2 separate regions of the Homo sapiens genome follow, and region 2 is linked to region 1. Evidence: fine-mapped expression QTL. A gene starts in region 1. The other region holds a variant in brackets. All regions are shown on one strand. Distances are between the middles of the regions. Region 1 holds the start of TELO2 (telomere maintenance 2). Region 2 overlaps IFT140 (intraflagellar transport 140).

Evidence for each region. PIP is the estimated chance that this variant, and not a neighbour inherited with it, causes the effect. A credible set is the group of variants that fine-mapping cannot tell apart.
Region 2: its variant is the best candidate, but not a certain one, in a credible set for the expression of TELO2 in sun-exposed skin (GTEx, PIP 0.61).

What each region holds. Positions count from the first base shown.
Region 1 is chr16:1,491,036-1,495,419 of GRCh38, forward strand. It overlaps TELO2 (telomere maintenance 2), which reads left to right and starts at 2,325. Exons shown (of 21, transcript NM_016111.4): 1 at 2,325-2,570; 2 at 3,211-3,581; 3 at 4,311-4,384. The coding sequence starts at 3,247. RefSeq lists enhancers at 1,983-2,032, 2,130-3,030, 3,932-4,384 and silencers at 2,243-2,332, 2,503-2,552, 2,563-2,762.
Region 2 is chr16:1,513,154-1,517,537 of GRCh38, forward strand. The region is part of intron 30 of IFT140 (intraflagellar transport 140); the gene reads right to left. Among named protein-coding and RNA genes, the nearest start is that of TMEM204, 18 kb to the right of the region's middle. The variant C/T (reference allele first, on the strand shown) is at 2,386.

The sequences.
Region 1 (4,384 bases):
AAAATCAGCCAGACGTGGTGGTGTGCACCTGCAGTCCCAGCTACTTGGAAGGCTAAGGCGGGAGGATCGCCTGAGCCGGGGAGAAGGAGGTTGCAGTGAGCTGAAATCGCGCCACTACACTCCAGCCTGGGTGACAGAGCAAAGAATAAAGACATTTTCAGACACACAAAGGCTTGAGAAATTTGTCCTCCAAGCACCCACTGTTGGATGCGGGGCTTCAGGAAAAGAAGGGAATAGGGAAGGACGGAGCTGCCGTGGGCACTGGCGAGGGCTGGAACCCAGCAGCGGACGGAGGAGGAGTTTCCGGGATGATGGGATGCTGCCTGCCCCATATCCCATCCATCAGCTCTGCCTGCAGAGACATGCCCTGAGTTCAGCTGCTTCTCTACACCCCCATTCCGCCCCAAGCTCATCCTCACAATGGCCACCTAGTCCCCTCGTCCGTGTCGCCCCCCTACCGTCTGCTCTCCTAACTGCACCAGCATGGACCCGTGCCTTCAATGGCTCCAGGAGATGCCTGCCACACAAGCAAAATCTTAGTCCCTGCGAGGGCCTTCTGTGGCCTGGCCCACTGCCTCACTCCCTCCAGGCCTCACCCCTGCATATGCCTCCCTCGGCTCCACCTCCCGGGCAACAGTTGCGGCCTCAGGCCTTTGCACCTGCCGTTTTCCTGCCAGTGAGACTCTTCCCTGGCTGTCAACACATTCAGGGCTCTGCTCTAAGGTGTTCTGTTCAGAGCTCTCACCTTACGTAAGACAGCACCCACTGCTCTCTGGCTCTTTTCTTTTTTTTTTTTTTTGGAGGAGTCTCGCTCTGTCACCCAGGCTGGAGTTCAATGGCACAATCTCCACTCATTGCAACCTCTGCCTCCTGGGTTCAAGCAATTCTCCTGCCTCAGCCTCCCAAGTAGCTGGGATCACAGACACATGCCACCACGCCCAACTAATTTTTGTATTACTATTATTATTATTATTATTCTTTTTTTAGGAGAGACGGGGTTTCACCATGTTGGCCAGGCTGGTCTCGAACTCCTGAGCTTGTGACCCACCCGTCTCGGCCTCCCTAAGTGCTGGGATTAGAGGTGTGAACCACTGTGCCCGGCCACTGGCTCTTATTTTCTTACCCTACCGGTTTTTTATTTTGATTCCTTTTTTTTTTTTGAAACAGGGTCTTGCTCTGTTGTCCAGGCTGGAGTGCAGTGGCAGTGAACATGGCTCACTGCAGCCTCAACCTCCCGGGCTCAAGCCATCCTCCCACCTCAGCCTCCTGAGTAGCTGGGATCACAGGCTCATGACACCGTGCCTGGCTAATTTTTAAATTTTTTGTAGAGACAGGGTCTCACTATTTTTCCCATTCTTGAACTTCTGGGTGCAAACGATTCTCCCACCTCAGCTTCCCAGTGCTGGAATTACCGGCGTGAGCCACCGGGCCCGGCCTCTGCCAGTTTTTCTGCTCGAGGCCTGTCACCTGGCATATTTCGTATGTACTTTATCTGTTCCCCCGATAGGTGAGCAGGAACTTTGCATCATTTGTTGCTCAGAAGGCTTGGTGCACCAAGCAGGCATTTAATCAATGTTTGTTGAATGGATAACTGTTCCCCAGCTTTTCCCACATCCATCACTGCTGAAATGGCGCCTCTTTAGGTGTCTTCCTGGATTGCCCCCTCCACAAAGATGAAGCCCCCCACACTCCGCTGCGGTGTACAGAAGGCACTGCATGTTGTAAATGTTCAGTGTCCGGCTGTCCAGCCTGGCGGCCACAGCCAAAGGTAGTACCGAGCCCTTGAGATGGGGCTAGTGCTGCAAGGGAACTGGACTTATTTAACTTCAGTTAATTTACAGAGCCACATGCGTCTAGCGCTTACCCTACTGGTCGCAGTTTTTATTCCACGACCCGGCCTCATTTACGGAGCTGCAATTGTTCAGATCTGACATGATCTCAACTGCTCTTTTACTTCCTTGTGTACCGTGCGTTTCCCTTACTGGCCTCTGACCCTTGAAAGCAGAGCCTTACATCCGGGGAAGACGAGCCAGGCCTGTCTTGGTAAACATCTGCCTTAGAGCGAACGCTCGGCGTTCTGGAGAGAATGTGGGACCCGAGGCGGAGGGAAGAGACGGCTGACATCACTCCAGGGTAGGGACGACCGAGATGGGAGAAACTAAGGCGAGAACCCACCACCCGGGCGCAGCGAACCCAGCTCGCAGCCACGTGGGGAAGCGCGGCCCTGCCCTCAGGCCCCGCCCCACTCACGCGTCAGGCCCCGCCCACCCCACCGCCCCCCGCTCCCGCGTCCAGGCTCCGCCCCGTCCCCGCGCAGCGCAGGCGCAGATGCGCCCTCCCGCCTGGCGTCCTCCGCAGATTCGCGCTGAGAGGCCCGCGGAGACCCGCCCCAGAGGCTCAAGAAAACCCGCGGGAGCCTCGCCCGGACCCAGGAACTCGTGCTCGGGGCCAACCGGCTGGGCCGCGATCGCGTTTCGTCCGGGGCCGCGGCGGCCGTGGGGAATCGGCTGCAGCGAATCGGTGGCGCGCGGCGCCTGAGCGCGCTGCAGTCACCCGGGAGCCGGGTCCAGGTCGGGTTGGGGGTCGGGGATCGGGGATCGGGGGTCCGGTTGGGTCGGGTTGGGCTCCAGGTCTGGTTGGGTCGGGTCCAGGTCGGGTAGGAGTCCGGTCGGGGTCCGGGTACAGGTCGGGGTCCGGGCCTGGATCGGGGGCGGGTCCGCGTGCGGCTCCTCTAGCCCCGAACCCGTGTTCCCCGTAAGCTGTTGGTTTCTAAGGGGCGGAGGAATGGCGACTGGAGCCACCTCTCACCGCTCAGGGAGCCGGGAGGGCCGGCAGCTCCCGCGGGCCGAGTTTCCCGCCTTGGGTGCGAGGACGCGTGGGGCCGCGCTGTGCCCGGGGAACACTCACCAGCATCTCTAGCCTCCACCTCCCTCTCGCGCCAGTGGCACTCCCGGTTGAGACAACTGAGAATGTTCCCTGGGCACAGTGGCCCGGGTTGAGAAGCCCTGCAGTGGCTGGTAGCGTTGGGGTCCGAGCGGAGGAGCGAACTCTGGGTGGAAACCGGCAGGCACTGGAGGGGAAGGAGGCGGGACAGGGTTGGGTGGGACCAGGGTTGAGGGGTGTGGGGTCTCGGGGCGCTCACCGAGGGGCTTCCTGAGCTTGTGTGGATTATTTCCGTGCCCCAAGCTGAGCCCTGTGTCCATGTCACAGGTCGTCTTCCCGTGACGCCCAGATCTGTCCTGCAGGATGGAGCCAGCACCCTCAGAGGTTCGACTCGCCGTCCGGGAAGCCATTCATGCCCTCTCGTCTTCGGAGGATGGCGGCCACATCTTCTGCACCCTGGAGTCCCTGAAGCGGTATCTCGGTGAGATGGAGCCTCCAGCGCTCCCGAGGGAGAAGGAGGAGTTTGCCTCGGCCCACTTCTCGCCTGTCCTCAGATGTCTTGCCAGCAGGCTGAGCCCAGCCTGGCTGGAGCTGCTGCCCCATGGCCGCCTGGAGGAGCTGTGGGCCAGCTTCTTCCTGGAGGGCCCGGCGGACCAAGCCTTCCTGGTGTTGATGGAGACCATCGAGGGTGCTGCGGGGTGAGTGGGCTGGGCCCATCCTGGGGTTGCCGGTAGCCTCAGAAGTGATGAGAGTGGCTTGAAGGACTGGACCAAGAGCCTCTCTAGTCCCTGTGAGGGGCTAGAGAGAGAGCCTGCTCCTGGCTGAACCCCTGAACAGAAGAAGCGGTCTGTGTCTGTCTCCTTTGCGACGGGAGGCACCTGCTGTGTCTCACAAAGTCCCCCACTTGCTCCCCGTCCGGCTGTGTCAGAGAGGGATGGGGTGGGAGTGTTCACATCCCAGGCGGCAGAGGCAGCCCGTCAGCTGGGGACGTTCCAGGTTTTCCAGGGAAGCACAGCTGTCATCACTGACACGTGTCCCATGTGGACTCCCAGCCCCAGCCGGCTCCCAGGCTCAGCCTCAGATCACACTGCAGTCCTTGCCGGGACACTGCATCTTGAGAAGCTGGGTTTTCAGAGGTTGCTGTGATCAAAGCAAGCACTGAGTTATCCGCGTCAGCAGCAGGGGAGGGGTGTCCAGTGAGACTCCAGGTTGGGGAAGCCGCTCAGGGCCCCGAGAGCTCTCACACAGTAATCGCAGTTATTTAGGAATGGATTAACAGATTTTCCCATCCGGCTTGTGGTTTTGGACTTCACGCTGGTTATGTTGTTGGGGCTGCCCGTGTAATCCGGGCTGCTGGTTCCTTGTGGCAGGAAGGGGGCCCCGAGGATGGGGGTTGGCGGCTCTGCCCAACACGCCCGTATCTTCAGCCCCAGCTTCCGGCTGATGAAGATGGCGCGGCTGCTGGCCAGATTCCTGCGCGAGGGCCGGCTGGCAGTGCTGA
Region 2 (4,384 bases), 22 kb after region 1:
GCAGGCGCGTGCAATTCTCTATGTTGGCTACAACAGAATTATGGTTGAAAAAGAGGCCGGGCGCGGTGGCTCACGCCTGTAATCCCAGCACTTTGGGAGGCCGAGGTGGGCGGATCACGAGGTCAGGAGATCAAGACCATCCTGGCTAACACGGTGAAACCCCGTCTCTACTAAAAAATAAATAAATAAATACAAAAATTAGCTGGGCGTGGTGGCGGGAACCTGTAGTCCCAGCTACTTGGGAGGCTGAGGCAGGACAATTGCTTGAGCCCAGGAGGCGGAGGTTGCAGTGAGCCACGATCATGCCACTGCACTCCAGCTGGGCAACAGAGCAAGACTGTCTCAGAAAAGAAAAAAGAATGAGAAGAGAGGCTTCTGACAACAGCAGCACGACTCCTGTGAGAGCAGCCCTCCCCCTAATGACGACGGACACATGGAAAGGCACTGGGGGCAGCCGTGAGCAGGCTGATGCTGGGAGTGGGTGGCACTGGGCAGGCTTCCTGCTTCTCACAACTTTCTTTTTTTTTTTTTCTTTTTTGAGACGGAGTCTTGCTGTGTCGCCCAGGCTGGAGTGCAGTGGTGCGATCTCTGCTCACTGCAAGCTCCGCCTCCCGGGTTCACACCATTCTCCTGCCTCAGCCTCCCAAGTAGCTGGGACTACAGGCGCCCACCACCACACCCGGCTAATTTTTTGTATTTTTAGTAGAGACGGGGTTTCACCGTGTTAGCCAAGATGGTCTCCATCTCCTGACCTCATGATCTGCCCGCCTTGGCCTCCCAAAGTGCTGGGATTACAGGCGTGAGCCACTGCACCCGGCTGCTTCTCACAACTTTCTGCCTCAGGGTAGGCCCAAGTCAGGGCCAGTGTGGGCATCAGCCACCTCGAAGCCTGCCCTCTTCCAGGCTTAAAGAATCAGAATCAAGATTTTTGTTGGCCAGGTGCGGTACCTCACGCCTGTAATCCCAGCACTTTGGGAGGCCAAGGTGGGTGGATCACGAGGTCAGGAGATCGAGACCATCCTGGCTAACACGGTGAAACCCCGTCTCTACTAAAAATGCAAAAAAAATTAACTGGGCGTGGTGGCGGGCGCCTGTAGTCCCAGCTACTCGGGAGGCTGCAGCAGGAGAATGGCATGAACCAGGGAGGCGGAGCTTGCAGTGAGCCGAGATCACGCCACTGCACTCCAGCCTGGGCGATAGAGCGACACTCCATCTCAAATAAATAAATAAATAAATAAATAAAAGATTTTTGTTGACCACAGCAGCTGGAATGTGAAGGTGGAAACGTTGGGATGCAGCAGGCATAGAGGGGATCCCAAATCCTGAGCATATGCTGCCCTCGTCACTAGTTGCTCCCACACTACACATGAGGCAGGGGAGGTGCAGACTTTAAGCCAACTCACGCTACAAGCAGGGATTTCAGCTGCTATCCACCACAGGGGAAAGAGTTTCGGCTCTGAGCTGAGCAAAGGTGATTGCCTAATAAAATGAACCAAAAAAAAGCAATACTCTTTGGAGGAATGTAACAGAATCCAGAGTCTCTACAATGGATTATCCACAATGTCCATGATACAAAAAAATGACTAGACATAAGAAACAGGAAAATTTGACCCATACTCAAAAGGCAAGTAATGGAGATCAATCCTACATGACCCAGATATTGGAACCGGTAGCTAAGATTTTACAGCAGCAGTTACAACTCTGCTTTAGGATATAAATATAAAATATATTTTAAACAAATTAACAAATAGGGAATTTTAGCCAATAAATAATAAAAAGAACTAAGTGTAAATTCTAGGGCTGCAAAATACAAGCTCTAAAAAGATTGCTGGAGAGGTTAACAGCAGATTGAAGATAGCTAAAGAAAGTCTAGATAAATACAAATTAATCCAAAGGACAGAAAAAAAGAAAATAATGAGCAGTAATCACAAATGTGTGTCTACTAGATATGGAAGACCTAACATTTAATTGGAGTCCCAGAAGGAGAAAAAGAGCAAATTTCCCAAATTTGGCAAAACACAAATATAGATCCCAAAAGCCCAGGATAAATACAATGAAAACACCTAGGAACATCATTATCGCACTGCTGAAACACAAATTCAAGAAGAAAGTCATGACAGCAGCCAGTGCAGTGGGAGATGGAGAGACACATGACATGTAAGGGCCCCACAGACAGCCCATAGCTGACTCTTCCAGAAACAATGGAGGCCCAGACAGGGAAAACATTCAAGTGCTGAAAGGAAAAAAATCTGTCAAATCAGGATTTTTTTTGAATCAGGATCTTGCTTTGTCACCCAGGCTGGAGTGCAGTGGTGCTATCACAGCTCACTGCAGACTCAACCTCCTGGGCTCAAGCAGTCCTCCCACCTCAGCCTCCCAAGCAGC[C/T]AAGACTGCAGGTGCATGCCACCATGCCTTGCTATTTTTTTCAGAGATGGGGTCTCACTTGTTACCCAGGCTGGACTTGAACTCCTGGCCTCAAGAAATCCTCCCACCTTGGCCTCCCAAAGTGCTGAGATTACAGGCATGAGCCACTGTGCCTGGCCTCAGAATTCTCTATCTGATGAGAACAACCTTGAAGAATACAGGCAAAATAAATACATTTCAGATTAACGAAAAGTAAGAAAATTCATCATCAGGAGATCTGAACTAGAAGAAATGTTAAAGGGAGCTCAGGCTGAAGAGGAGTGATACCACATGCAAATCGGAATCATAGGGAAGAAGTAAGAACACCAGAAATGACGCTTTGGGAGGCCGAGGCAGGCAGATCACCTGAGGTTGGGAGTTTGAGACCAGCCTGACCAACATGGAGAAACCCCATCTCCCCTAAAAATACAAAATTAGCCAGGCGTGGTGGCGCATGCCTGTAATCCCAGCTACTCCGGAGGCTGAGGCAGGAGAATCACTTGAACCTGGAGGGTAGAGGTTGTGGTGAGCTGAGGTTTGTTGCCCACTCCAGCCTGGGCTACAAAGAGCAAAACTCTGTCTCAAAAAAAAAAAAAAAAAAAAAAAAAAAAAAAAAAAAAAACACCAGAAATGGATGGTAAATATGTAGGTAAATGTAAAAGACTATTTCTTTCCTTTTAATTTCTTCAAAATACATATGACTGTTGAAAGCAACAATTATAACACTATACTGTGTTTATAATACATGTACATGTTACACATACGACAAATACAGGTGGGGACACGGGTGGGAAATGGACCTACCTGCTAACTCTAGTGTGGTAAGTATGTTTATGGTAATCTCCAGGGCAAACACTAGAAATACAATGCAAAGAGGAGTAGAGATAAAAAGCTGATAGCTAAAATGAAATTATAAAAAATAGTCCACTAAGGCCAGGTGCGGTGGCTCACGCCTGTAATCCCAGCACTTTGGGAGGCCGAGGCGGGCGGATCATGAGGTCAGGAGATCGAGACCATCCTGGCTAACACGGTGAAACCCTGTCTCTACTAAAAATACAAAAAAATTATCTGGGCGTGGTGGCGGGCGCCTGTAGTCCCAGCTACTCGGGAGGCTGAGGTAGGAGAATGGCGTGAACCCGGGAGGCAGAGCTTGCAGTGAGCCGAGATTGCACCACCGCACTCCAGCCTGGGCGACAGAGCGACACTCTGTCTCAAAAAAAAAAAAAAAAAAAAATCAACTAAAAAGAAGGCAGGAAAAAAGGTTTAAAGTAACAATAATAAAAACTGGTAGAAAAAGTTGACTGGTAGAAAACTGACATGAAAAAGATGGATGGGATTACCATCAGAGTGAGACACTGCAGAAGGAAAGCTGGTAAACTTGAAGCAACAGAAATGGCAAATCCCTAAAATGAAAAACAGAAAAAGTCCTTGGGGGAGAAAAGAAGAGCATCAGTTGAGCTAGGGGATGGTACTGTATATACAAGTCATTGGAATTTCAGAAGCAGAGGAAAAAAGGAATAGAAGGGAACTTCGGCCAGGCGCGGTGGCTCACGCCTGTAATCCCAGCACTTTGGGAGGTGGAGGCGGGTGGATCACTTGAGGTCACGAGTTCAAGACCAGCCTGGCCAAATGGTGAAACCCCATCTCTACAGGCATGCTGATGCACACCTGTAGTCCCAGCTACTTGGGAGGCTGAGGCAGGAGAATGGCGTGAACCCAGGAGGCGGAGCTTGCAGTGAGCCGAGATCGCGCCACTGCGCTCCAGCCTGGGCAACAGAGTGAGACTCCGTCTCCAAAAAAAAAAAAAAAAAGTACAATAATAAGAAAACCCAATAAAATGATGAGAAGAGACTTGAAGCCTTCACAGAAGGTGTGTAAATGGATAATAAGCACATGAGAAGGAGCTGCACATCACTACTCATCCAGAAAATGTGAATTTAAACCTCAGCAAGGTACTGTTCACCCCCTAGGATGGCTACAG